Linked DNA regions of Homo sapiens. The protein of the gene in region 1 interacts with the protein of each later gene in a biochemical or structural test. Each region holds a gene or a part of one and is shown on either strand. Other genes may lie near its edges.

Region 1 (3,359 bases):
ACCCATAGTTCCCGTTAATTGGGAGTCTGAGCCAGGAGATCCCTCAAGTCCAGGAGCTGGGGGCTGCAGTAAGTTATGATTTTGCCACTGCACTCCAAGCCTGGGGCACAGAGTGAGATCCTGTTTCTTAAAAAAGCCAGTCATGGGTGGCTCATGCTTTTGTAATATGGGGTACTTTGTGAGGCTGAGGCTGGTGGCTTGCTTGAGCCCAGAAGTTCGAGACCAGGGTGGGCAACGTGGCAAAACTCCGTCTCTACCAAAATTAACAAAAACGAGCTGGGTGTGGTGTTGGCGTGCCTGTAGTCTCAGCTGAGGCTAAGGTGGGAAGATTGCTAGAACACAGGAGGTTGAGGCAGCAGGGAGCCAAGACTGTCCACTGCATCCCAGCCTGAGTGACAGAGTGAGGCCTTGTCTCAAAGAGAACCTCTGCCAACTTGAATGAAAAATACCTTAATTTGTATTTTTAAGAAATGACTAGTTAGTAAAACTTGAATCTTTTTTGCCACAGCTCTATTTTAATAATTTTTCTGTTGAGAAAACTAGTAGATTTCTTGAATTCTAAGAGTTCTAACAGGGATTTTATTCATCTTAACTATTTTGACAGATTTAAAAATTATGTAGTAAGACTTTATTTCAATGTTGACAGGACGGGTTCCCATGTGTGTTTTTGCAGAGGGTTATTCCTGAAACTGACTTGTTACTAGGACCACATAGTTTGGTACACAGTAGAAAAAAGGCAGTTAGTTATTGCTGTAGAATGAACTGAGTGACAGTTCTTGCTTGCTTGAGAAAAATATACTGAGCATCTAGATTGGGCCAGGTAGTGTTGCTAGGTGCTCGGGATATATAGTAGAAAAACAAGCCTGTCTTTTTTAATGTATGCAGGAAATCTCTGGAGAAGTAAGAGAGGTTAAGGAAAGCTGGGTATGTGCCTGCTTTACATGGAGTAGTAGTGATTAAGTTGGCCAGTGCCCAGAAGTGCTTACTGGGTGCCAGGATTGTTGCTGTGGAATATCGAGTACCACTAACTTTTAAATTCTTCAAAGAGGGCTGTGCTGAAGTTTGCTGCTGCCACTGGAGCCACTCCAATTGCTGGCCGCTTCACTCCTGGAACCTTCACTAACCAGATCCAGGCAGCCTTCCGGGAGCCACGGCTTCTTGTGGTTACTGACCCCAGGGCTGACCACCAGCCTCTCACGGAGGCATCTTATGTTAACCTACCTACCATTGCGCTGTGTAACACAGATTCTCCTCTGCGCTATGTGGACATTGCCATCCCATGCAACAACAAGGTAATGATTTTAGGATCTAGAGTTTGTGAATGCGTGCTCTAGAAAAAACATTCCTGTGCACATTGTTAGAGCTTGGAGTTGAGGCTACTGACTGGCCGATGAACTCGCAAGTGTAGGTAGTGTGCTACATGAGGGGCAAGTTTTCGCTAACACCACAAGGGTCTCTGGCCCAATGAGTGGAGTTTGATAGTAATTCTTGCTACAAGTATAACATTACTGCATGACAGCTTTGTGGAGAAATGAAAACATTTGGAAAATAGTGTGTTCTTCTGCCTTTGTCCATGTTTCTTGCTCAGGCCTCAGGCACTTGGCCTTTGTTTTCACACCAACTTGATGGGTTCTACTATAAGATGCTAAAAAGGTGGGTTGTGTGTGGTTCAGATTGGTTGATTTGTAACCCTAGTTGTGCATAAGAATTGCCCAGATATTTTTTTTAAATGCCAGTGTCCAGGCATTTTTTTTTCAATCCCTATGATTCCAGTGTGCAGACAAGGTTGAAAATCCCTATTTATAATGCTCCCTGTTACAATTGCTTTTCAACTAAGAGATGTCTGTACTTTTGGTACCTAGATGATGTAAGAGCCAGGAAGGTGCTTGCTGTTTGGGTTTGACCAAGTGTCACTTTTTAATAATCTGCCACTCTTGGCAGGGAGCTCACTCAGTGGGTTTGATGTGGTGGATGCTGGCTCGGGAAGTTCTGCGCATGCGTGGCACCATTTCCCGTGAACACCCATGGGAGGTCATGCCTGATCTGTACTTCTACAGAGATCCTGAAGAGGTAAGCTTCTCCAAAGGCTTGTGGTTACATAAGCAAATTGGACGACTTGGACTGTGCTTCTAGGAAGCAAAACTTGTCAGTCCCTGTAAGTCTTTCCTCTTTTTTTTTTGTAACCCAGATTGAAAAAGAAGAGCAGGCTGCTGCTGAGAAGGCAGTGACCAAGGAGGAATTTCAGGGTGAATGGACTGCTCCCGCTCCTGAGTTCACTGCTACTCAGCCTGAGGTTGCAGACTGGTCTGAAGGTGTACAGGTGCCCTCTGTGCCTATTCAGCAATTCCCTACTGGTATGTATCAGGATAGAGGTGAATCAAGCTGATATTTTGCAACTTCTCAGTTTTATTCTAACTTTAATGATCTCTGTGACTTTTATACTAGCTTTAAGAGGTTTTCATTCCAGTGTGCTACAGCATCTGATAGACTGCTGTTGGGAGTGGGGTAAGGAAAAATACTACATTGAGGACAGAGCTGATGGCTTTTTTTGGTATTCTCTTAACAGAAGACTGGAGCGCTCAGCCTGCCACGGAAGACTGGTCTGCAGCTCCCACTGCTCAGGCCACTGAATGGGTAGGAGCAACCACTGACTGGTCTTAAGCTGTTCTTGCATAGGCTCTTAAGCAGCATGGAAAAATGGTTGATGGAAAATAAACATCAGTTTCTAAAAGTTGTCTTCATTTAGTTTGCTTTTTACTCCAGATCAGAATACCTGGGATTGCATATCAAAGCATAATAATAAATACATGTCTCGACATGAGTTGTACTTCTAAAGCCCACTGTAGATAGTGTATATTGCTTTTCACTTCAGAATTTCCCTGAGCTTCCTTCCTGTGTGGAGAACATGTGTGCTGTGAAAATAGATGTAAGTGGTTACACATACTTAGTTGGTAACCTCAGGAATACTTTTCCGAGGCCCTGATGATCTTGCTTTTATTACCATTTGCGTAGGTAAGTTCTATAGAGCTTAGGTTTTTATTTTTGAGAGTCTTCCTGTCACTTAGGTTAACTATTCCTGGAAGCCCTGGAGAGGCGATGGTCCTTCCCCACATTGAGAGACATTAATTGCCCCTCTTGTCAGCTTGCCTACAGGTTCTGGGAGAGGAGAGGTATGTATGTATTTAAAAATGTGATGTTCTCCATATTTGTCTTTGCCGGGGAGGGGGTTGGGGAGACAGTCTTTCCCTGTTGCCCAGGCTGGAGTACAGTGGCGTGATCTCAGTTCACTGCAACCTCTGCCTCCTGGGTTCAAGCGATTCTTGTGCCTCAGGCTCCTTCGTAGCTGGGATTTCAGGTGT
Region 2 (7,109 bases), on another chromosome or scaffold:
TGAGACAGAGTCTCGCTCCATCGCCCAGGCTGGAGTGCAGTGGTGCGATCTCGGCTCACTGCAAGCTCCGCCTCCCCGGTTCATGCCATTCTCCTGCCTCAGCCTCCTGAGTAGCTGGGACTACAGGCGCCCGCCACCACGCCCAGCTAATTTTTTGTATTTTTAGTAGAGACAGCGTTTCACCGTGTTAGCCAGGATAGTCTTGATCTCCTGACATTGTGATCTGCCCGCCTCGGCCTCCCAAAGTGCTGGGATTACAGGTGTAAGCCACTGCACCCGGCCAGGCCTGAGCTTTTTATATACACCAACTGCCAAACATTCCACGTGAATTTCCTGAAACTTCTCTTTGGAAAGCTTCTGTTTGTATGTATAAGGCAATGTGCATGCCAGCATGTCAGTTACAGCAGGAGAGAGGGAACAAGCCATGTGGGAACTGATGGAGCCATGTCACATCCAGTGTCCTCTGCAGCCGCTATGGAGTGCCAGGAGGAATGAGGGGCAAATGGTAAGATCTTTATGACGTGAGAGAAGCCAGGTGCGGAGCAGGGAACAGTCAGGTTTAATTGGTGTGAAGAACAGGATCACTGAAAAATATTTTCTCATAGATAAAACTCTTTTTGTATAAAAGTCTACAGAATTGCGATAGGAAACCCATAATCATGGTTTCAAGTGGGCAGAGAACTAGGCTCTGGCGTCAGGGGAGGAAGGGGAACTGTTCACTGTCAACACCTTTTAGGACGTTTCCATTGGGATCGAAGGGTGGCTCACTCTGCCACTTTGACATAAGAATCACTTCTACCTAAGGCACTTGAAAAATGGCACAGGCAAGAGCATCATCGGATCTCTCCTTTTCTTCCTGAAGACAGGAGATAAAAACGCTCAGGTGAAAGATGCCTTCCCTGTACCGGGCGAAGAAAGATTCCTCTACAGGGAAGCACGTCATAGCCAACAGAATTCTGTACAGACATTAAAGTAATTAAAGTAATTCCTGTCGTTCTTAAGCCTCCCCACACGGTTTACTTTTCCACAACTGCCTCTTTGTTCAGCCTCCTGCAAAAGCACATAGGTTTCGTCACTTCTTTGGGTCTTTGCTTCCTTAGGAGGGTCCTGTGTGACATCAAAGTGACATTAAATTTGTATACATTTCTCCTGTTAATCCATCTGATTTCAACTTAGTTCCCAGGCCCAGCCAGGAACCTAAGAGGAGGGAGGTGGATATTTGCCTCCCCTACAGTATCGTGTACGTATATGACTTTTTAAAAAAGAAAATCTGGGGCCACATGGCAGTGGCTCACGCCTGTCATCTCAGCATTTTGGGAGGCTGAAGTGGGACGACTGCTTGAGCCGAGTTCAAGATCAGCCTGGGCAACATAGGGAGATTGTGTCTCTGCAAAAAAAAAAACCCAAAAAATTAGCCAGGTGTGGTGGCACATGCCTGTGTTCCCAGCTATTCAGGAGGCTAAGATGGGAGGATCACTTGAGCCCAGGAGGTCACCATTACAATGAGCTATGATTGCACCACTGTTCCAACTTGGGCAACAGAGTGAGACCCTGTCTCTTAATTTTTTTTTAATTAATTAGTTACCTGATTAACACAGTTCCTTATTGGTGAGGGATTCTCTACTGTGGTCCTTCTGCAGTCCCACCCCATACATGAATGGCTTCTTTTGAAGCTTCCTCCTTTGTACAGGTGAGTATCTTTGTCACTGTCTTACTCTGTTTTGTGCTGCTATAACAGAATACCACAGACTAGGTAATTTATATAATGAACTGAAATTTACTGGCTCATGGTTCTGGAGACTGGGAAGTCCAAGACAGAAGAGCTAGCAACTGGCAAGGGCCTTCTTGCTGTGTCATCCCATGGTGGAACAGCAAAGAGAGGGCAAGAGTGTGCCAAAAGGGGGGCAAACTAGTCCTTTTATGAAAAATACTTTGATAACAAACCCACTCCCATGATAACAACATTAACCCTTTCCTGACGGTAGAGTCCTTGTGGCCTAATCACCTCTTAAAGGTGCCACATCTTAATACTAGTATGATGGCAATTACATTTCAACATGGGTTTCAGAGGGGACCAACATTCAAACCATAGCAGTCTCAAACACTGGGCTGGCAGTGGAAGAGGAGGCTGATCTTTAAAGAATATAAATTTTTTTTTTTTGAGACGGAGTTTTGCTCTTGTTGCCTAGGCCAGAGTGCAACGGTGTGATCTTGGGTCATTGCAACCTCTGCCTCCCCGGTTCAAGCGATTCTCCTGCCTCAGCCTCCTGAGTAGCTGGGATTACAGGCATGCGCCACCACGCCTGGCTAATTTTGTATTTTTAGTGGAGATGGGGTTTCTCCACGTTGGTCAGGCTGGTCTCAGACTCCTGACCTCAGGTGATCCGCCTGCCTCAGCCTCCCAAAGTGCTGGGATTACAGGCGTGGGCCACCACGCCCAGCCAGAATATGTTCTTTAAAAACAGGCACAATTCCATGAAGTAAACTCACATTGGAATGGTTAACAGGTAAAGTGATCCAGCTGGCTGAAACAATAGGCATTCACCGGCATCCAAAGTACATAAAGATGAGCACTTTGAGACTGCGCCACTGCACTCCAGCCTGGGCGACAGAGTGAGACTCTCTCACCAAAAAAAAAACGTGAGCACTTTCACCTCAAGAGTCGCTAGGCTCAGATGCTGAATGCACCCTGAAGGAACTCTAAAGATACCAGCCTCTGGAGTTTTCACAGCCAACAGCATTCCTAGGTAGACTGGTTGAGAACACGGCTAGTTGGAGGGTAAAAAGAATGACTTGTGAATGCTCACTAGGTCTTTGAATATGTAAGTAGACACGACTTCAAGCCAGTTGCTCAGCCTTGAATATATCCTAGAGTCCATCACCTTGGGCTGTGAGTGGCTTGTGCGGTCATCTGTCCATCTCTCAGCTGGGCGAGAAACTTGATGTCCTTTCTGAGAGGTGGCCCTGGCTCTGCCTGGGACCTGCTACTCTTCTCCAAAGTGCATTTTTTGTGGGTGGGTTTTCACTGTGGGTCCTGGGCAGGTGAGTGCTGGTGCCCAGTGTTGGGGAGCAGGGTAGATAGAGGTGTGGCTGCTACCTGGCTGGGCCCGGACTTGGCAGCCTTCCTTCATGGCCCTCAGCCACAGCCTGTTCCATAGTTTGTTCTCGATGTGTCAGCTTTGTGTTCCCATGAGAACAATGGGCTCCTTGAGGACAGGCATTGCATCGTACCTGTGGTCTCTTCCCTAACGCCCCCCAGTACGCCCAGCATAGACAGCACAGGGTGCAAGCAGTCAGATGAGCAGGGCTCCCGTTCCCAGCACGGGACCCAGCCCGTTACCTCGCTGCTATGTTTCCCACGTAAACGGAGCAATACCCAATTCTAAAGAACTGTTCTGAGGACTAAATGGAATAGTGTAAAAAATAAATTGACATGAAGTGAAGGTCAATTAAAATGCACTAGCTTGGCCAGGCGCAGTGTGGCTCATGCCTGTAATCCCAGCGCTTTGGGAGGCCGAGGAGGGAGGATCGCTGGAGCCCAGGAGTTTAAGACCAGCCAGACAACACAGCAAGATCCCGGCTCTAGCAAAACATTAATAAAAATTAGCCGGGCGTGGCGGTGCCCACCGGTGGTCCCACCTTCTCGAGAGGCTGAGGCGGGAGGATCGCTCGAGTCCTGGACGTCGAGGCTGCAATGAGCCGATTTCGCGCCATTGCGCTCCAGCCTGGGCGACAGCGCGAGACTCCTTCTCAAATATAGAATTTTAAAAAGGCCATCTCGACTGCCGCGGGGGTCGCGTCCTCTCCATCCCCGACCTTGGACGCAACCCCGGGCTTGGGTCCCCCACGATCTAGACAGAAACTCGTTGTTTCTCGTGCTCCGCGCCACCCGCGTCCTCCGGTCTGTTTCTCCCAGGTGCGTCGGTGAAAGGCGGAGCGCCGCCACCCTACACCCGCGACCCTGCGCCCGCCCGAGCCGCTTCCGGGTACTTCCGGCGGCCGCGGGGCTCCCGGCAGCCGCGGCTCCTGTTTCCGCCGGGCGGCGAGAACGCAGGACCAGCTTCCGGGAGGCGCTCCGCACGTTTGCCGTGCTCCGCCGGGAAGATGGGGAAAGTGAGGGGGTTGCGCGCCCGAGTGCACCAGGCTGCCGTGAGGCCGAAAGGGGAGGCCGCCCCCGGCCCCGCGCCCCCTGCCCCGGAGGCGACCCCTCCGCCGGCCTCGGCCGCGGGGAAGGTGAGCTGGGGAGGCGCTGGCCGGGGGCTGCCGCGTGGGTCCGAGGGCGGGTGAGCTGCGGGGCGCCGCCTCCGGGAGGGTTCCGCGACCCCGGCCTTCCCTCGGGCTCTGCGGGCATTTGCTGCGCTACAGACGCGACCTTCTTGCTTCGCGAAGCGTCGTAAACTCCGAGGCTCCGCTCTGCGCTGCCGTCCTGGGCACACGGACTCGCGCCGCTCCCGGGGAGGGGAGAGAGCCAGGAACCTCCCGCTGCGGTCCAGGGTTGCCACGCGGACCCCAGAGGTTCCTGAATCGCACTGAGCTCCCCGGAAAGGAAAGGACGTTCCCAGAGTTAGAGAAGAACGGAGAGCAAACTGAAGAGAGACCCCGTTCCCTTTAGCAGTCGGCTGGCCTGTTTCTCCATCCCCCTCAGCCCTAAGCAAGCACGAATCTACCTTTTGTCTTTATTCTAGACACTGCATGTGAGTGGAATTATTGCTTTCAGGATTTTTTTTTTTTTTTGGCTTTTGCCTTAAATATTTTGACCGATGTGTCTTGGTGTAGGTATCTGCATTTATTTTGCGTGTTCACTGAGCTTCTTGCGTGTGTAGGTTAATGTTTTTCGTTACATTGGCAAGTCTTCAGCCATTATTTCCTTGAATATTTTTTTCTGCCCCTTTCTGTCACTCCTCTCTTTCGGATACTTCCATTATAAATATGTACGTCGTGCTTAATGGTGTCCCACAGTGCTCTGAGGCGCTGTTCACTCAGTTTTTCTCTTTTCTTCAGATGGCATAATCTATCTTAATTCAAGTTTACTGATGTTCTGCCAGCCCAGAGGTGCTTTTGAACCTTTCCAGTGAAATTTTCATTTTTTTTGACTCCAGAATTTATTTACTTTCTTTCTCTTCTCCTGTTCCTCCTCATTTTAAAAAATACTCTTTACTGATGTTTTCTGTTTGATGTGAGAATGTCATTATACCTTCGTTTAGTTCTTTAGACACGGTCTCTTTTAGTCCTTAGAAATATTTATAATGCCTACTCTGAATTCTTTACATGTGGGCTGCTCAAAGCAGTTTCTGTTGCCTGGCTCATGCTGGCAGGTAGGAGCAGGTGGGCCTTCTTTGAATGTATCACTTTTTGTGGAAAATTGGGCATTTTGGATAGTCCTGTAGCAACCAGGGATTAGTATCTGCTTGATTACTTTGTTTATTGATCTGGAACTGAACTATGTGACCTCTCTCCTTGTCCCCTTCTGGCTGTGTGCAGCCTCTGATGTGCCCCCTTGGTTTTTTTTTTTTCTTCCTGTTTTTCTCTTTTAGCCTGGCTAGTTGGATCTGCTTAAGCTCCTCACTGGTCAGCAATTGTTCTTAAAGCCTCCTTGGCCAGGGGGTTTTTGCCTTTTACCACTGGATACCTCTGGCTTGGAGGTGGCTGTCAGATTCAGCGTGTTCACATTTTTGACCTTCATTTCTGCCCTCAGAGGCACAGCCAAGGACTAGTAGCTTACAGAGTCCCTCTGCTCACTCCTGGTAGGGTGCGTCCTTGAACATGCGCACAGCCTCCAGACTGCCAGGGATGCGACCTCCTGGGAGTTGTTCCTGGGTCAGAGGGGCTTACTGTCTACCCAGGAGCCTTGGGCACCCTGCCCTCTGCATCTGTCACCACCCAGAGCTCCTTCCTGGTCAGCAACACCCTTAGGCGTGAGAGCCCTCACACGAGCTGCAGACAAGGCGAGTCCCTTCTGGCAGAGCTATGGAGTTCTTCCTTTTTGCAGCCTACCGCTCCTGGGCAAGAGCTCCGTGTCAGGACACCAGAGATGGGGCAGGAGCAGCTTCAGCTTCTCAGGTGACATCTCTCTCTACTAGCAGGAGAGGGGCGTGCCTTTAGTTGTCTTGGCTCATTGAAACCTGTGCCAGCATTTTTTTATTAAGCTCCAAAAATATGCATTAATGAGATATAAAGTGCTACCATGGAGAATGTCCCAGGTACAGTGGGAAAAGCAGTCGTCTGCCGTATACCAACATACATTCATGATCTGGAAGGCTGCATGCTGCACCCCTTGTCCCCACCTGGTCCCTGTTTGCCTGTGAGGCCTCAGCCTACCTGTGCTGCCTCAGCCACCTGCCTGCCCATCTGAAGGCTGCCCTGGTCTCCAGCACTGTTCCCCCGTGAGTCTGATATTTTCCCATGTACCGACTTTTCTGTCTCTGCCACGTAACCCTCCAAGACCAAGGACTTCTCCCTCAGGTGCTGTGGGTGAGGGAGACCAAGGACTTCTCCCTCAGGTGCTGTGGGTGAGAGCACCTGGGGAGTTGCAGTCCAGCCTGGCACCTCTTGGTGCCCTGGCTGCCTTCTACCTCATCTGCATCCTGTCTCCTCTGTAATGTGAAGGAGGCCATGTTTTACCTCTACCTTCAAGGTTTTTAGGTTGGGCCTGAGATTTAGAATTACATAAAACAGATTAACAGGAGAAAAGCGTACCCATTCATTGAAGTTTTATGTGACATGGGAGCCTTATAAGGAAATGAAGACAAGGAAGTGGGAGAACTTTGTGCTTCTTTGAGAGGGTGAGAGGTTGAACGGAGGTGGTTGTGGAAAACTAAACCACATGGGGAGGCTGCAGGAGGGGAGGGGTTGTGTTCACCAGGTGTGTCTGTACAGAGTGCTCTTGGCTCCTCTGATCCATCCCTGATGATAAGAATGTCACTTACCTTCTGGTGTAGGAGGGCATCTTCCATATGGGGGTTTTATCTCCTTTCAGGAAAAACAGGGAGGGGGTTAATATGCCCTCTTGGTACCTGCTATATTTTTAAGTGCCTTTAGCTCAAAATAATTAGTGACATGTTTTGGGGTGGCGTATTCTGACCCCCTTCAGAAACCTCTGTTGAGGTCGA
Region 3 (7,036 bases), on another chromosome or scaffold:
CCTTTTCATTCTTCTCTAGTTGCAATGGTCGTGATTTGGTTTTTAGTCCTATAGTCTTCCCAGGTGGTTTTGTTTATATTAACCTTAGGTTTGTGGTGTGACCCCAGCCACTTCATTGAAGGTGGACCCTAAAGTATAGTTGAGTTTGGCTAGTTTATAATACCGTCTCACCCCATGGGGGCTAGAGGGCCTGCCTGAGCCACAAGGAGTTATTGGTTGGTATCCTTAGAAATTGCATACAAATATTTGGCTGCTTTAGTTTCAGAGATAAACAAGAACAGCCTTTAAATTCACTGCCTTCTGTTTGTTAGAGAAGACTTTGAAATCCATTTTACTCAAGATTGATTATTCTGGCTTGAAGGAAATGCTTACCGTGATTTACTAATCTATAATGGCAGGGGTCTGCAGACTCTTGAAAGGGCCAACTAATAAATATGTGTGAGCATTGTGGCTCACATATAGTTTCTGTTGATTTTTTTTCAAAGCAATCATTTAAAAGTGTAAAACCCATTCTTAACTTGCAAGCTAAGGAAAAACAAGCTGTGGTCTGATTTGGTCCATGGGCCGGAGAGTGCTGACCCCTGATTTACAGCTGCCTGTCCACGACGGTAGCCACTGGGCACTTGAGATGTGGCCAGTCTGAATTGAGATGTGCTTTAAATGCAAAAGACACCGGAGTTTGGAGACTTAGTGTCAAAAACAAGGATTATCTCACTGATGACTTTTTATATTGATACAGGTTGAAATGATAGCGTTTTAGATATTTTGAGTTAAATAAAATATATTAAGATAATTTCACCTGATTCTGTTTACTTTCAGTGTAGTGACTAGAACAATGTAATACTATTTATGTAGTTTGCATTATACTTCTATTAGCTAATAGCCTAGAGTTCTGTTTCTCTTGAACTTGGTTGCCTTTGATTTCCATGACTGGATGAACTTGCTAGTTGGTTTTGCCTTTGGTTCCTTTGGCCTTTACCTGACATTTTACTGATTAACAATTAGAGTGAATAAAAGCACCAAATAGTGACTCTCATTTAGTCAACCAGGATAGCGTCGTACAGTTAAGCTCTGCTGTTTATTGATTGTCACAGGTTTTAATGAGGAAAATTTGGTACCGTCTTTTGGAACTTTTTAATTTTTGCATTTCTTTTTAGGTGTTGGATCCCAGAACAAGAATGATTTTATTCAAGATGTTGACTAGAGGAATCATAACAGAGATAAATGGCTGCATTAGCACAGGAAAAGAAGTGAGCTCTTCTTTGGATGATTGGATATTTAATTTTCTTATTTCAGATACCAGATGAAACTGGCACTTAGAACTACATTATGCCTTTAAGAAGAAAGAAAAACAAAGCCATACACATTAATATTCATGGTTAGAGAGGAAGTTGTACATATAACTACGCCCTTTTCACTACCGCTGCTGCATTGGATCATTGAGTCTAACTAGTTGTGCCCAGTAGTGAGTGAGATGGTCAGATTATTACAGGCCTGAGTTCTAATAAAATAAATTACTCATGGGGCCAGGGGTTTATGGTTATGTTTCTATGAGTCAGCAAGTCTTTCTTATTTTTTTCTTTACCTACGGGTATACTGCCTTCTGTTTGTTAGAGAAGACTCTGAAATCCTTTTGACTCAAAATTGACTACTCCAGCTTGAAGGAAACTCTTACTGTGATTTACTCAGCTATAATGGCAGGGGTCTGCAGGCTCTTGAAAGGGCCAGCTAATAAATATATGTGAGTGTTGTGGCTCAATATAGTTTCTGTTTTTGTTTTTTTTTTAAAGCAATTATTTAAAAGTGTAAAACCCATTCTGCTGGAAGCAATTCTCAGTAAAATTCAACTTATAAATCACTGGATTTTTAAATTTTTTTTAAACAGAGTCTTTTTTTTTTTTTTTTTTTGAGACAGTCTCCCAGGCTAGAGTGTGGTGGCATGTTCTCAGCTCACTGCAACCTCTGCCTCTCGGGTACAAGCAATTTTCCTGCCTCACCCTCCCGAATAGCTGGGACTACAGGCGTGCACCACCACACTCAGCTAATTTTTGTATTTGTAGTAGAGGCAGGGTTTTGCCATGTTGACCAGGCTGGTCTCAAATTTTTGGCCTGAAGTGATTCACCCGCCTTGGCCTCCCAAAGTGCTGCTATTACAGGCATGAGCCTCCACGCCTTGCCTAAATCACTGGATTTAAGAATGTCTTTAATTATTTTGCATATACTTGAGATATAAAAAAGTTTGAAACCACTTCTCCCCTATATTTAAATTGGATTTTACTGTACAGTCTTGCATTGCTTAATGAAGGGAATACTTTCTGAGAAATGCATCATTAGGCAAATTTGTCATTATGCGAAGAACATTATAGAGCATACTCATACAAACCTAGATAGTATAGCCTACTGCACTCTCAGGCTATACGGTAGTTCCGAATCTGTACAACAGGTTTCTGTACTGAATACTGTAACAATTGTAAGACAATGGTAAATATTTATCTATCTAAACATAGAAAAAGTACAGTAAAAATACCTGTTATAGTCTTACGGAATCACCTCATATATGCGGTCTGTCACCTGTCAGTAACTAAAACGTTATGTGGCACGTGACTGTATTTGTATATTGGAGCTATGTTTACTGTCCTTTTGATGTAATGTTTTACATTTTAATTCACATATTCAAAAGACAGTGGTATTCCTTATGCATGTTATTTCAGTTCACTTGACTTTTGAGGTTAGAATCAAATAGATTGAAAAAGTGGTTATTTAACATAAACTTCATTTTCTTTTTTTTTTGACTTAATATAGGCTAATGTATACCATGCTAGCACAGCAAATGGAGAGAGCAGAGCAATCAAAATTTATAAAACTTCTATTTTGGTGTTCAAAGATCGGGATAAATATGTAAGTGGAGAATTCAGGTAAGTTCAGATTTTTCCCTCCAGTTGGTTTAATTTCTATTTCCTAAAACATTAAAATAATAATGGAATGATTGAAATAATAAACATTTTTCTTATTCAAGATTTCGTCATGGCTATTGTAAAGGAAACCCTAGGAAAATGGTGAAAACTTGGGCAGAAAAAGAAATGAGGAACTTAATCAGGTGACTGTCTGGGATGTGTGTATGTCTGTCCTATGCCCTGTACATGAACATCAGCCCTTCCTCCCAGCAGATCCCAGTGTGGTTCTGCCCAAATGTAGGGACTTGTTAGGGCCTTTATTTCTATTAGGTCTGCTGAAGTAAGCAGAAGAAACACATGTCTGGACAAATAGAGATTGTTTCCTATTCTGTTGTTTTCTATTCTGAGAATCCATTTCAAAAGAATACTGCCACAATTCATATTTATTCCACGAAGCTAGATCATTTGGAAGGCCTTGTAAGCCATTGAAAATGTTTAGAATTTATACTGAGGATAATAAGGAACTGCTAAAGGATTTTAATCAGGAAAGTGACACAATCAGATGGTTATAATGCTCTGTCATGTTTTCGTAGGTATTGGAGTTTTCGACTAATCTTGTTAGGTCGTGAACTCTTTGTTTATCATAGTTTCCTTTTCTTAGTCCAGTTTTGGACACTTTTTTTATATTCTTTGTTTGCACTAACACCTTTTTATCAGGTAAAGGCCTCATCTAGTTGAGATCAAGTTTCCTGAAAATTATGGAGTTTTAAAAAATGTCTTATAACTTTTTATATGGTGTACACAGGTGACACATTGGATAGTGTAGTATTGAGCAAGTACTACTCGTTTTGAAAGTCTTTTGTGTTCAACAAGCTATTAGGTGTGAGTCCAACTATTTTTATTAAGCATTTTTCAGGCTATTCAACACAAAAGATACTTGTGGACCTATCTCCTCTATTTCCTCCATTGTAAGATGCACATTTTTTTCAGTTTAACATCTCTGGAATTGCTTTGGGTATTACAGGTTATGGGATGTAATAGTTGAATTGCTAGTGTTTTATCATTCTCGGTGGTACATAATGGTGCCACTTAAAATAATCTTAGAGTTTATGAAATATTATAATACATTTGAGAGGCCTTGGTGCTATTTCTTAACAGCAATATTAATCTTGGGACCTGCAGTTGTAATTTATTTAGATGCCTTTTCAACTTTTCAGTTGTCCTTTTATTTGTTATAATATCACAGGCTAAACACAGCAGAGATACCATGTCCAGAACCAATAATGCTAAGAAGTCATGTTCTTGTCATGAGTTTCATCGGTAAAGATGACATGTAAGTACATGGAAGGGCTAATAATTGCATTCTCAGAACTGTATTTTTAAGTTCTTTGAGTTTATCCACTATATGAATATTTCCCATTTGAATAACTTATTAATCTTTCCCACTATATTAGTGAATAAGTGTTATCAATGTATTCTACCTTTTCAAGTCTGAAAATGCTTCAGAATGAGGAGCAAGTTAGTCCTGTGTTGGAGGGTGGTCTTATACAGTGTGTTGGGAAAGCATCTATTTGCCGGTACCTTCTTGGTTTATGTGCATTGAGACAGATTGTCCCACATACAGCTCACATGATGAGTTGTAGAAGAGAAGGGCATGTAACAGTATAGTAAGAAGCAAGAAAACTTGTTCTTGGTCATTTTATCTTAGTTCTTTTCATTCAAGGCCTGCACCACTCTTGAAAAATGTCCAGTTATCAGAATCCAAGGCTCGGGAGTTGTACCTGCAGGTCATTCAGTACATGAGAAGAATGTATCAGGATGCCAGACTTGTCCATGCAGATCTCAGTGAATTTAACATGCTGTGAGTGTATTTTGTCTCTTAAGAACTGCCTGTCAGTTGTTTCGTGTCCTTTAAAATGATAAACAAAATCCCAATCCAAGAAGTCACACTAACTTCTGAAGTTTTATTGTTGACTTCCAAATGGTATAAGATAGGATTCCTTTTTTCAGTGACCTTAGTCACCGAATTGACTGCTTGGATCATTAACAGTGAATGGATTTTGGAAATTTTCCCAGTTCCATCTGTTAGTCAAGATTGCCTCATCTTATCTACCTTGGTGATTTTGTGAGCTACTTCCCTTGCTTTTAAGAGTAGAATTTATTTTAAACGAAAAACATAGTAAAGTAATACCATCCCACAGCTTCTGTGTCTCTGGCCCATAGGTACCACGGTGGAGGCGTGTATATCATTGACGTGTCTCAGTCCGTGGAGCACGACCACCCACATGCCTTGGAGTTCTTGAGAAAGGATTGCGCCAACGTCAATGGTGAGTAGAAACGGCAATTTTCGAAACAGCTCATTGGTCTGTTTTGGTTTTGTACTCAGTTAAGCTGTTGGCGTAAAATTTTCTCACTAAATTGTTTGGTGCAGTGATGCTTAAACCATTTGCTGGGAGATGGTATGTAATTTTATCTCCTTGTTTCTCTATAAGGTAGTTGGAATAATAATATTTTTCCTCATAAAAGCTGTCATTAACGTTTTTCCTTCTGACAGATTTCTTTATGAGGCACAGTGTTGCTGTCATGACTGTGCGGGAGCTCTTTGAATTTGTCACAGATCCATCCATTACACATGAGAACATGGATGCTTATCTCTCAAAGGTAAGATGGGGAGAGGAAGGAGGAATAGGAAATAGCAGTACAGGTGCAGTATCTCTTATCTCAAGTGCTTGGGACCAGAAGTGTTTTGGATTTTGGATTTTTTCCAGTTTTGAAATATCTGCCTTGTACTTACCCTAGTTGAGCATCCGAAATATCAAAATCCAAAATCCTCACTGCTCCATTTCACATTTCATTTGAGCATAATGTTGGTGCTCAAAAAGTTTCGGATTTTGGAGTATTTCAGATTTTTGATTTTTAGATTTGGGATGCTAACCAGTAATTGCATTTGCTTGACACTTCTGAGGGACCCAGATTGCATAGTGTAGTTTATTCATTTTGACAGCTTCCTGAGACCTTTTCCTTCCTACTTAACAGATGAAGAATCAAAAATACAGCACAACAGCCAATGGTAAAGCCAGGGGTTTTTTTTTTTTCCTTTTTTTTTTTTTTTTCTTCTCCTGAGTCAACTTGATATCCAAGCTTTTTACTTCAATTATCTGGCAAGATTACATAGACTGTCAAAGTTTGTGAAAGTTTAGCAAGAAAACTGTCAGTTTTTTGGTCATTAATTCTTTTCCCTTGTTTCTCAGGGGCCTTTCTCTTTTTTTCTTTTCTTTCTTTTTCTTTTTTCTTTTCTTTCTTTCTTTTTTTTTCTTTTTTGAGACAGGATCCCACTCTGTCACGCAGGCTGGAACATAGTGGCGCACTCTTGGTTCACTGCAACCTCTGCCCCTCAGGGTCAAGTGATCCTCCCAGCTCAGTCTCCGAGTAGCTAGGACTACAGGCACACGCCACCACACCTAGCTAATTTTTATATTTTTTGTAGAGACAGGGTTTCATCATGTTGCCCAGGCTAGTCTTGAAATCTTGGCCTCAGGTGACCCACCTGCCTCAGCCTCCCAAAGTGCTGGGATTACAGGTGTGAGCCACGACGCCCGGCCTCAGAGGCCTTTCTGAATATAGAATTTTTTAGAATTCTGGTAAAAGACATAATATAAAATTTAATGCTTTAACCATTTGAATGTATGGTTCAGTGGCATTAAGTACATTCACATTGTGGTACAAACTATCACCACTGTCTATCTCCACACCTGTTACATCATCCCAAACTGATATTCTGTACCCATTAAGTAACAACTTCCCATCCCCTGGCAATCACCATTCTACTTTCTGTCTTTGTGAATTCACCTACTCTAGGTACCTCTTATAAGTGGAATCATATAGTATTTGTCTTTTTGTGTCTGGCTTATTTCACTTAGTATGATGTCTTCAAGATTCATCCATGTTATAGCATGTGACAGGATATCTTTTTCTTTTTTTGTTTGAGACAGGGTCTCACTCTGTCACCAGGCTAGAGTGCAGTGGCGTGATCTTGGCTCACTGCAACCTCTGCCTTCGGGTTCAAGCAATTCTACCACCCTGGCCTCCCTGAGTAGCTGGGACTACAGGTGCGAGCCACTACACCCGGCTAATTTGGGTAT
Region 4 (7,036 bases), on another chromosome or scaffold:
AGCGGTGAGCCTAGCACAGAAAGCTGGGAGGGAAGAGGACTGACTTCCTGGCAGCCGGGGCTCCGGTTCCTGATTCCTGCCCTGGTATCCTGTCCCAAGAATGGCCTCCGCCCAGACTGCCTGGTGATCCCTGAGCAGCTCTCTGCACTGCTCCAGAAATCAGGAGGATTTTTCAGAGCCCAGAGAGCAGATTTCTCCACGAGCCCTAAGGAAATCTGAATCTCTGGTGAGGAAAGTGACATGGAGGATGAAGGAAACAAGCTCTGCCAAGCCCCACCATGGCCAGGCCAGACCAGCCCAGGTACAACTGTTGATCAGTGAGAATTGAGAGCAGTTCCCCTAAACAACACTCCCTTTGCTTCTTCTGCCATACTAAGGCCTAGGCAAATGGATCTCTCCAAGAAGGGAGGCAACTGGGCTGCCTTTCCTTGTACCGTCAGGGGGCCTTATTCCTATCCTTTCTGTCCCTTCTTACTCACCATTCCCTACACTCCTCCCATCTAGTGGTGTCATCCTAACGACTGGGGGTGGGGGGCACCCAGAACTGAGGTTGCTATAGTAACAGATGAGATGAGGCTACAGCCTTCTATAGTTGTGGACTGTATGCTCTCCTCCCCCTCGCCCCCCATGCCTCATTTGCAGCCTTAGTCTCTTTCTGTCTCCCAACTCCAGCTCTCTTTCTCCATTCTGTAGGCTCCCCTCACCCCTCTGGATGTGAGCCTGTGGTTATATGCCTTCTTACACATGCTCTTGGCTGGTTTAGACACATACAAACACACACATGACAGATACTCACAGCCAGTGCACCCACAGCCATATATCCAGTGCTGGCACATACACCTCCATTACCAGAACATCCAAACACACCCACAGATACCCAGCCACTGCCTCCTCCAGAGCTGTGCCCACAACCCGGGGATTAGCATCCATAAGATCCGAGCACACACACATTTCTCCTCTGCCACTTTAACATTCCTACCCCCATCTCTCTTAGGGGCCTCCTTGTATCTTTCACTCTCTTAGAAAGCTCCTACCCACTGCCCCCAAGTCTTTGTGGGTGAGTGTGTTACACACATTAATCTCTTCCCGCCTACCTCCTCTGTAGATCTGTTTTAGATTCAAAGCCCTAAATCTGAACTCCTCCCGACACACACACACACACACACACACAGACACACACACAGATGCACTCTTTCCTCCCGCAGGATCTGTAATATTTACAAACTCTCCTTCCATATGAAAGCAGGGAAGTATAACCCCCAATCCTGCCCCCTTTTCCAGCTGAGGGCTTGGCCCCAGAGTTTCCTCCACTGGGGCAGGGTCTTCTTGTCTCCTGCTGCGCTTTCCCTTCCAGTTGTACTCATGCCCCCCTACTCATTCTTATCTCCATCTCTAGTCCCCTCCCCATCATCCCCCTCACCCGTACCCCCCTCCTTCTGTCCTTGGATTATCAGTGAAGTGAGGGGGGTTGGGCTCCAGAGCTTGCTGCTGTGACCTAGATTTCAAGGCAGAGACAGTTCCTGGTGCTGACAGTCAGAGAGCATTGTTCCTGGCCCGGCCTGGCAGGGCCACTGCTGGGCCCTTCTGTCTGGTTGCACCTGGGTGTGCAACTGAGCATGCCTATGACTGCCTGTTTCTTGCGGGGGTCATGGTAGCCCTCCTGTCTGGCTCATTGTCTGCCTGTGTCATGGTGCCTGCCACCAAGGGAGGCTTGTTTATTCTGGTCCAGGTAGGGGGCTGGGAATGGGGACTTCTGGGTCTGTATCTCTTATTTTGTGACCACCATGCCAATCTCAGTTCCCCTGCAGTAGAGCAAGAAGGAAAATGTGAATGTGTCAACCAAGCCCCTTTGATCTGCCACATTCCCAGCCTAATGCTGGGGTGATTTGCAGGCAGCCTCCGTCAGGGACAAGGTCATCTTGCTGCTTGCCCACCCCTTGGTCTAGTCGCATACAGAGTGTTTATGATACAATTTACTTTTTAAAACATGCTTTACTTTTCTGACTAAAAGGAAATAGATACTCATTGTGGAAATAAGTTCCATTTTTGAGCTTACCACTAGTGTCACATTTTATCAAATCCAGAAAGTCCATTCAAACATCTGACCTTCTTTCTTCTGTCTTAGCCACAGTTCCTATCTTAGTGGAAGGAAGGCCTTGAATGTTCTCTACTTCTCACCTAAGGATCATGAAAGAGGGATAGGGTGAAAGCCTAGGTGAGATCTGGCCTTGCTGATCTCATCAGACCATGCTGAAGGTAGTGCCAGTAGGATGTTGATACGATACGAGAAGGGGGGGCAGTCCCCTTTTGCCATTCTCCCAAAGCCGCATCTAAAGTCCCCTCCCCCCACCACCCAGCCAGCCTGGGAACTGGGCAGGGGGCCAGAGCCAGTTGCTTGGTATTCTTGGGCACGGGGGCTGCAGGCACAGCACAAAGGGTAGGAGAGAGAGCTGAGTGGGGGCCTGGTAACCATCAAAGGAGAAAATGGGCTCCACAAAGGTGGGGGTGGTCCATTGCTTCCCCCACCTCGAACCCTAATGACTGAATACAAGGCTAGCATGGTGGGGCCAAGGAACCATCAGACCAAGCAACTAGGCATCTATCCAAAATGAGTCATTAGTGGGGTGGTGGGGAGTTGAAGTGAGGGACCCCTTTGCCTTTGAGGCAGAATGGGGAAGCTAGAACACATGAGTTCCTACCAGACCCTCCAGCTCTTTCTCAGCTTCTCACTGCCACAGCAAGCCTCGCCCTGGTTGTTTTGGAGTTTTTTTTCCCTGACATGGGGAGGGGTTGGAAGTGGGTGGGGCGATTCTGAGGGGGGACTTGGAGAGAGCGGGTGAGAAAGTCGGGAGCAGGTTGCTATGGTAACCGCCTCCTCAGTCAGGGGAACTGTTGCCAGGGTTACTGTTAGAGGGGGAAAACAGAAGAAAAAGATGGTGGGGGGAAGGAGGTATGACTTGTCACTCTAGGCTCCAGCCTGGCTCCTAGCTTCCCGTCTACCCTGACTGCCTCCCCTAGGTCTTCCTTTTCTCCCTCCAGCCCTAGCCACCTCCAGCCTCCATGTTCCAGGCACATGCCTGGTAGGGCAGAGTGGGGAGTAGGAGGGTAGTGCCAGTGAGTAAACCAGACTCCATACCTTAAGCTCAACTCCTATCCCTTTGTCGCCTCCCAACCCCAGTCATGGCTGAGTACGGGACCCTCCTGCAAGACCTGACCAACAACATCACCCTTGAAGATCTAGAACAGCTCAAGTCGGCCTGCAAGGAAGACATCCCCAGCGAAAAGAGTGAGGAGATCACTACTGGCAGTGCCTGGTTTAGCTTCCTGGAGAGCCACAACAAGCTGGACAAAGGTGGGGGAGGGGAGCACAGGGGTCCTGTCATCAGTCATTCAGGCTCAGTTCATTCAGCAAATAGAGATGAGCTCAAAGCTTTTACATCCACAATGTGTACCCCTCTATAGCAAGGCAGAAGAGAGGTGCTCTAAGAGTATGGGGGCCTTAGACATTTTTCACTGTGCCCCTCATCGGTAAAAAATGTTATTCAGATACTCCTGTGCTATTATCACATATACAACAGAACATAAAAACAATCTAAAAATAGTAAAATTTTAAGTGGCAAAAATTGGGAAGAATTCTAGACAATAAAAATGGAAGAATACCTGAATGAGGGGAGAACTCGAAGTGTAATCTAACTGGTAAATAGTAATACTAATCTTTGTTAAGCATTTTTTAAAAACTGGTAAAATTTAAAACTACAAGTTCTATCATTTTCTTATCCACTTTGAGAGACTACTGCTTGGGGAGTGGGATCTATGGATTAGAGTAATCCCTCACAGCTGGAGGCTTTAGGGAAGAATTGGTGTTTAAGATGGCCCTGAAAGGTGAGTGGGATTTCTAAGGCAAGATCCAAAGGAGGGCATGCCAGGCAGAGGAACACTGTCACAGAGTATCTAGTGTGTTTGGAAATGCAATCAGTCCTGCTTGGCTTGACTAGGATGTAGGGTGTTTAGAAATGGCTGGGAAGGTAAGGTAAGACTGTGTTGTAGAGAGCCTGGGTATTGGATAGGTGAGGTGAGTGAACTCAGGGCCCTTCAGATATACTATTCTGACTGCTGTGTGGCTGGCAGGGAGAACGTATAAAGGAGGACGTGTTACAGTTAGACTGTATGGCAACAGTCAGAGGGGAGGAGCCAGGGAAGAAGGTCTAAGGGCATCTATAATCTCCTGGAATTGGCCAAGCCATGGACATCGTCCTTCTGGTGGTGTCCATACCTTCTCTCATTTAGAATAACCTTTCTCACCAGGCCCAGAATCTCTCCTGGGTTGCCTAGAGATTCCACCCTGCTGGTCCTACATGTGCTGTCAGCAAATTCTGATACTTACTTGGATGGAAAGTGGAAAAGGATGGGGGTGGGGGTGGGGTATCTGGAAGTCAAGTTGATTTTTCTTTTGTCCCCTCCCCACAACATATGGGAGCTAGTATCTAAGCTAAACCCCTCATTCTAACCACAATCTAGAAACTTCACTGACCAACTATCTGCCCTTCCTGCGAACAGTCCTCTGTATTGTTGTTTGGGTACCTTAGCTTTCTTCTCCTGGATTAGTAGCCCCTCTTCCTCCAGTGTTGTACCCTCCCATAACCAATGTCAGCAACTCAGCTTTGGTTCCAGGTCACTAGTCTGGTGGAGTAGGGGAAGCTGACCTCTACAGCCTAGCTCTGACCCTATCTCCTGCCTTCCTCCAGACAACCTCTCCTACATTGAGCACATCTTTGAGATCTCCCGCCGTCCTGACCTACTCACTATGGTGGTTGACTACAGAACCCGTGTGCTGAAGATCTCTGAGGAGGATGAGCTGGACACCAAGCTAACCCGTATCCCCAGTGCCAAGAAGTACAAAGGTAAGCGGCCACTCCTTTAACTAGCTGCACCTCTGCCTCGTCCCGTTGACTATCCTTGGAGTACTTGAGTTTTGGGAGAGTGGAGGCAGATGCCCAATGGGCCTGCCTGGCATCTCCCACACTGCTGTCCCTGGACACATACCTTTTTGCCCCCAGACATTATCCGGCAGCCCTCTGAGGAAGAGATCATCAAATTGGCTCCCCCACCGAAGAAGGCCTGAGCAAGGGGGAGGAAGAGGAGGAAGGTTGGACCTTCATCAGACCACTCCCTTCCCCCATCCTCCAGGAGAGGGGGCAAGGGCAACCCACCATCTACCCACTTACTAACCTGGTCCTAACCCCCTTACTGTGCGCGTGTGTGTGCGTGTGCGCACGCTCTGGCTGTTTGTCTATATGTCTAGCTCATCTAGTTCCTCTTCTTAAGGGGATGGGGGTCAGGGGCTAGGGGAGGGGGCTGAGTTTCCCCACTTTAGGAGGAGGTGGGGGCTATTTCTATGCAAATAGAAATCAGCACATTCCTCCTACTTCCCTTTCCTCCACTCCCCCCATATCTTTAAAGTGTGGAAGCAGAAAGGACCTGCATTTTCCTACATTGAGGAGCTGACATAGGGGTAAGGTATGGGAGAGGTAGGTGGATCCAGGGAAAAGCAGTGGGGACGGAAGGCAAAGAGACCACTCAACCCCCACCTGGAAGGGGCAAAGAAAAGCCAGAGTTCCATGTTTGTACTCCTGTGCTGGACTGTTTCCTGAGTACCAGCAGGTCCCTTTTTGTCTCTCATGGGCCTAGCATAGGTATGAGCCAGGGATCCTTTCCTGGTCCCTAAGATCAAACCCCATGGAGCAGCCAGCGTTAGATGCCCCCACCCACCTGTACTCTGGAGAGACTGTGCTGGGAACATGTACCACTGAGCCTGAGATGGGGATGAGGGCAGAGAGAGGGGAGCCCCCTCTTCCACTCAGTTGTTCCTACTCAGACTGTTGCACTCTAAACCTAGGGAGGTTGAAGAATGAGACCCTTAGGTTTTAACACGAATCCTGACACCACCATCTATAGGGTCCCAACTTGGTTATTGTAGGCAACCTTCCCTCTCTCCTTGGTGAAGAACATCCCAAGCCAGAAAGAAGTTAACTACAGTGTTTTCCTTTGCACCGATCCCCACCCCAATTCAATCCCGGAAGGGACTTACTTAGGAAACCCTTCTTTACTAGATATCCTGGCCCCCTGGGCTTGTGAACACCTCCTAGCCACATCACTACAGTACAGTGAGTGACCCCAGCCTCCTGCCTACCCCAAGATGCCCCTCCCCACCCTGACCGTGCTAACTGTGTGTACATATATATTCTACATATATGTATATTAAAACTGCACTGCCATGTCTGCCCTTTTTTGTGGTGTCTAGCATTAACTTATTGTCTAGGCCAGAGCGGGGGTGGGAGGGGAATGCCACAGTGAAGGGAGTGGCAGAATCAAATTGCTACATAGTCCAAACAAAAAAGAAGGCTTTTTCAAAAAACATTAAATTCACATGCAGTCTCAGAGACTATTTAGACAAAGTTCAAGTTAGGAGCTTTTAGGATGTGGGAGTAAAACTTTAATGGGAGGGGAGGGCTGGCTGCTGGAAGAAGGAAGAAGCCAGACTGGTTAGACAGTACTCTTAACTCCTAGCCCAGCCTAGCGTGCCCTGCCCCTCTGGCCACTGCTGCAGACACCTGCCTTAACACACACACCTCTAGGACTCCACAGTTTTGCCTTAAAGGACCTTCCCAAGTCTCCCTTTCCCTGTCTGGCTTCTCCCTTAAGAAGAGAGAGATACTTGTAGAATTGGGTGGGGGGAATGAGCATGAACTGTCCTTCCATTTGGGATATGTTACATTAGAGTGAGAGAGAGAATAAGGAGCCTTTCTTATGGAAGAAATGGGAGAAGAGAGACAGGGTTCTTTTCAGCAGAGTCTAGTAGTTTCTCTGTAAGGCAAAATAATCTAAAAAGACTAACCTGCCCACCCACTCCTTATATTGCTGTGAGATTGCCCCTATCTTGTGCTCTTCTGTCTGCAGTGTGCACGGCCTTGTTCTAACCCGGAATAAAGGTGATTGATTGTATTGCAACTAACTGATTTTAAAATTTCTGTGAGTG

Evidence for each region.
Region 2: the proteins of RPSA (region 1) and SLX9 are reported together in a solved structure, tested with the Homo sapiens proteins (one study listed by BioGRID).
Region 3: the proteins of RPSA (region 1) and RIOK1 are reported together in a solved structure, tested with the Homo sapiens proteins (one study listed by BioGRID).
Region 4: the proteins of RPSA (region 1) and PEA15 form a complex in vitro, tested with the Homo sapiens proteins (one study listed by BioGRID).

The regions. Positions count from the first base shown.
Region 1 is NC_000003.12:39,409,708-39,413,066, forward strand, and holds the end of RPSA (small ribosomal subunit protein uS2), read left to right. Parts: intron 1-1,046; coding exon 1,047-1,292; intron 1,293-1,346; exon of another isoform or gene 1,347-1,500; intron 1,501-1,941; coding exon 1,942-2,070; intron 2,071-2,188; coding exon 2,189-2,354; intron 2,355-2,566; coding exon 2,567-2,661; 3' UTR 2,662-2,835; downstream 2,836-3,359.
Region 2 is NC_000021.9:44,935,954-44,943,062, forward strand, and holds the start of SLX9 (ribosome biogenesis protein SLX9 homolog), read left to right. Parts: upstream 1-4,075; 5' UTR 4,076-4,104; coding exon 4,105-4,233; intron 4,234-4,348; exon of another isoform or gene 4,349-4,694; intron 4,695-7,109. UniProt on the Homo sapiens protein: May be involved in ribosome biogenesis.
Region 3 is NC_000006.12:7,399,801-7,406,836, forward strand, and holds part of RIOK1 (serine/threonine-protein kinase RIO1), read left to right. Parts: intron 1-1,157; coding exon 1,158-1,250; intron 1,251-2,802; coding exon 2,803-2,915; intron 2,916-3,016; coding exon 3,017-3,097; intron 3,098-4,140; coding exon 4,141-4,227; intron 4,228-4,617; coding exon 4,618-4,755; intron 4,756-5,117; coding exon 5,118-5,221; intron 5,222-5,448; coding exon 5,449-5,555; intron 5,556-7,036. UniProt on the Homo sapiens protein: Involved in the final steps of cytoplasmic maturation of the 40S ribosomal subunit. Involved in processing of 18S-E pre-rRNA to the mature 18S rRNA. Required for the recycling of NOB1 and PNO1 from the late 40S precursor.
Region 4 is NC_000001.11:160,208,365-160,215,400, forward strand, and holds the end of PEA15 (astrocytic phosphoprotein PEA-15), read left to right. Parts: exon of another isoform or gene 1-240; coding exon of another isoform or gene 241-301; intron 302-479; exon of another isoform or gene 480-505; intron 506-3,178; coding exon of another isoform or gene 3,179-3,180; coding exon 3,181-3,352; intron 3,353-4,745; coding exon 4,746-4,901; intron 4,902-5,057; coding exon 5,058-5,122; 3' UTR 5,123-7,008; downstream 7,009-7,036. UniProt on the Homo sapiens protein: Blocks Ras-mediated inhibition of integrin activation and modulates the ERK MAP kinase cascade. Inhibits RPS6KA3 activities by retaining it in the cytoplasm. Inhibits both TNFRSF6- and TNFRSF1A-mediated CASP8 activity and apoptosis.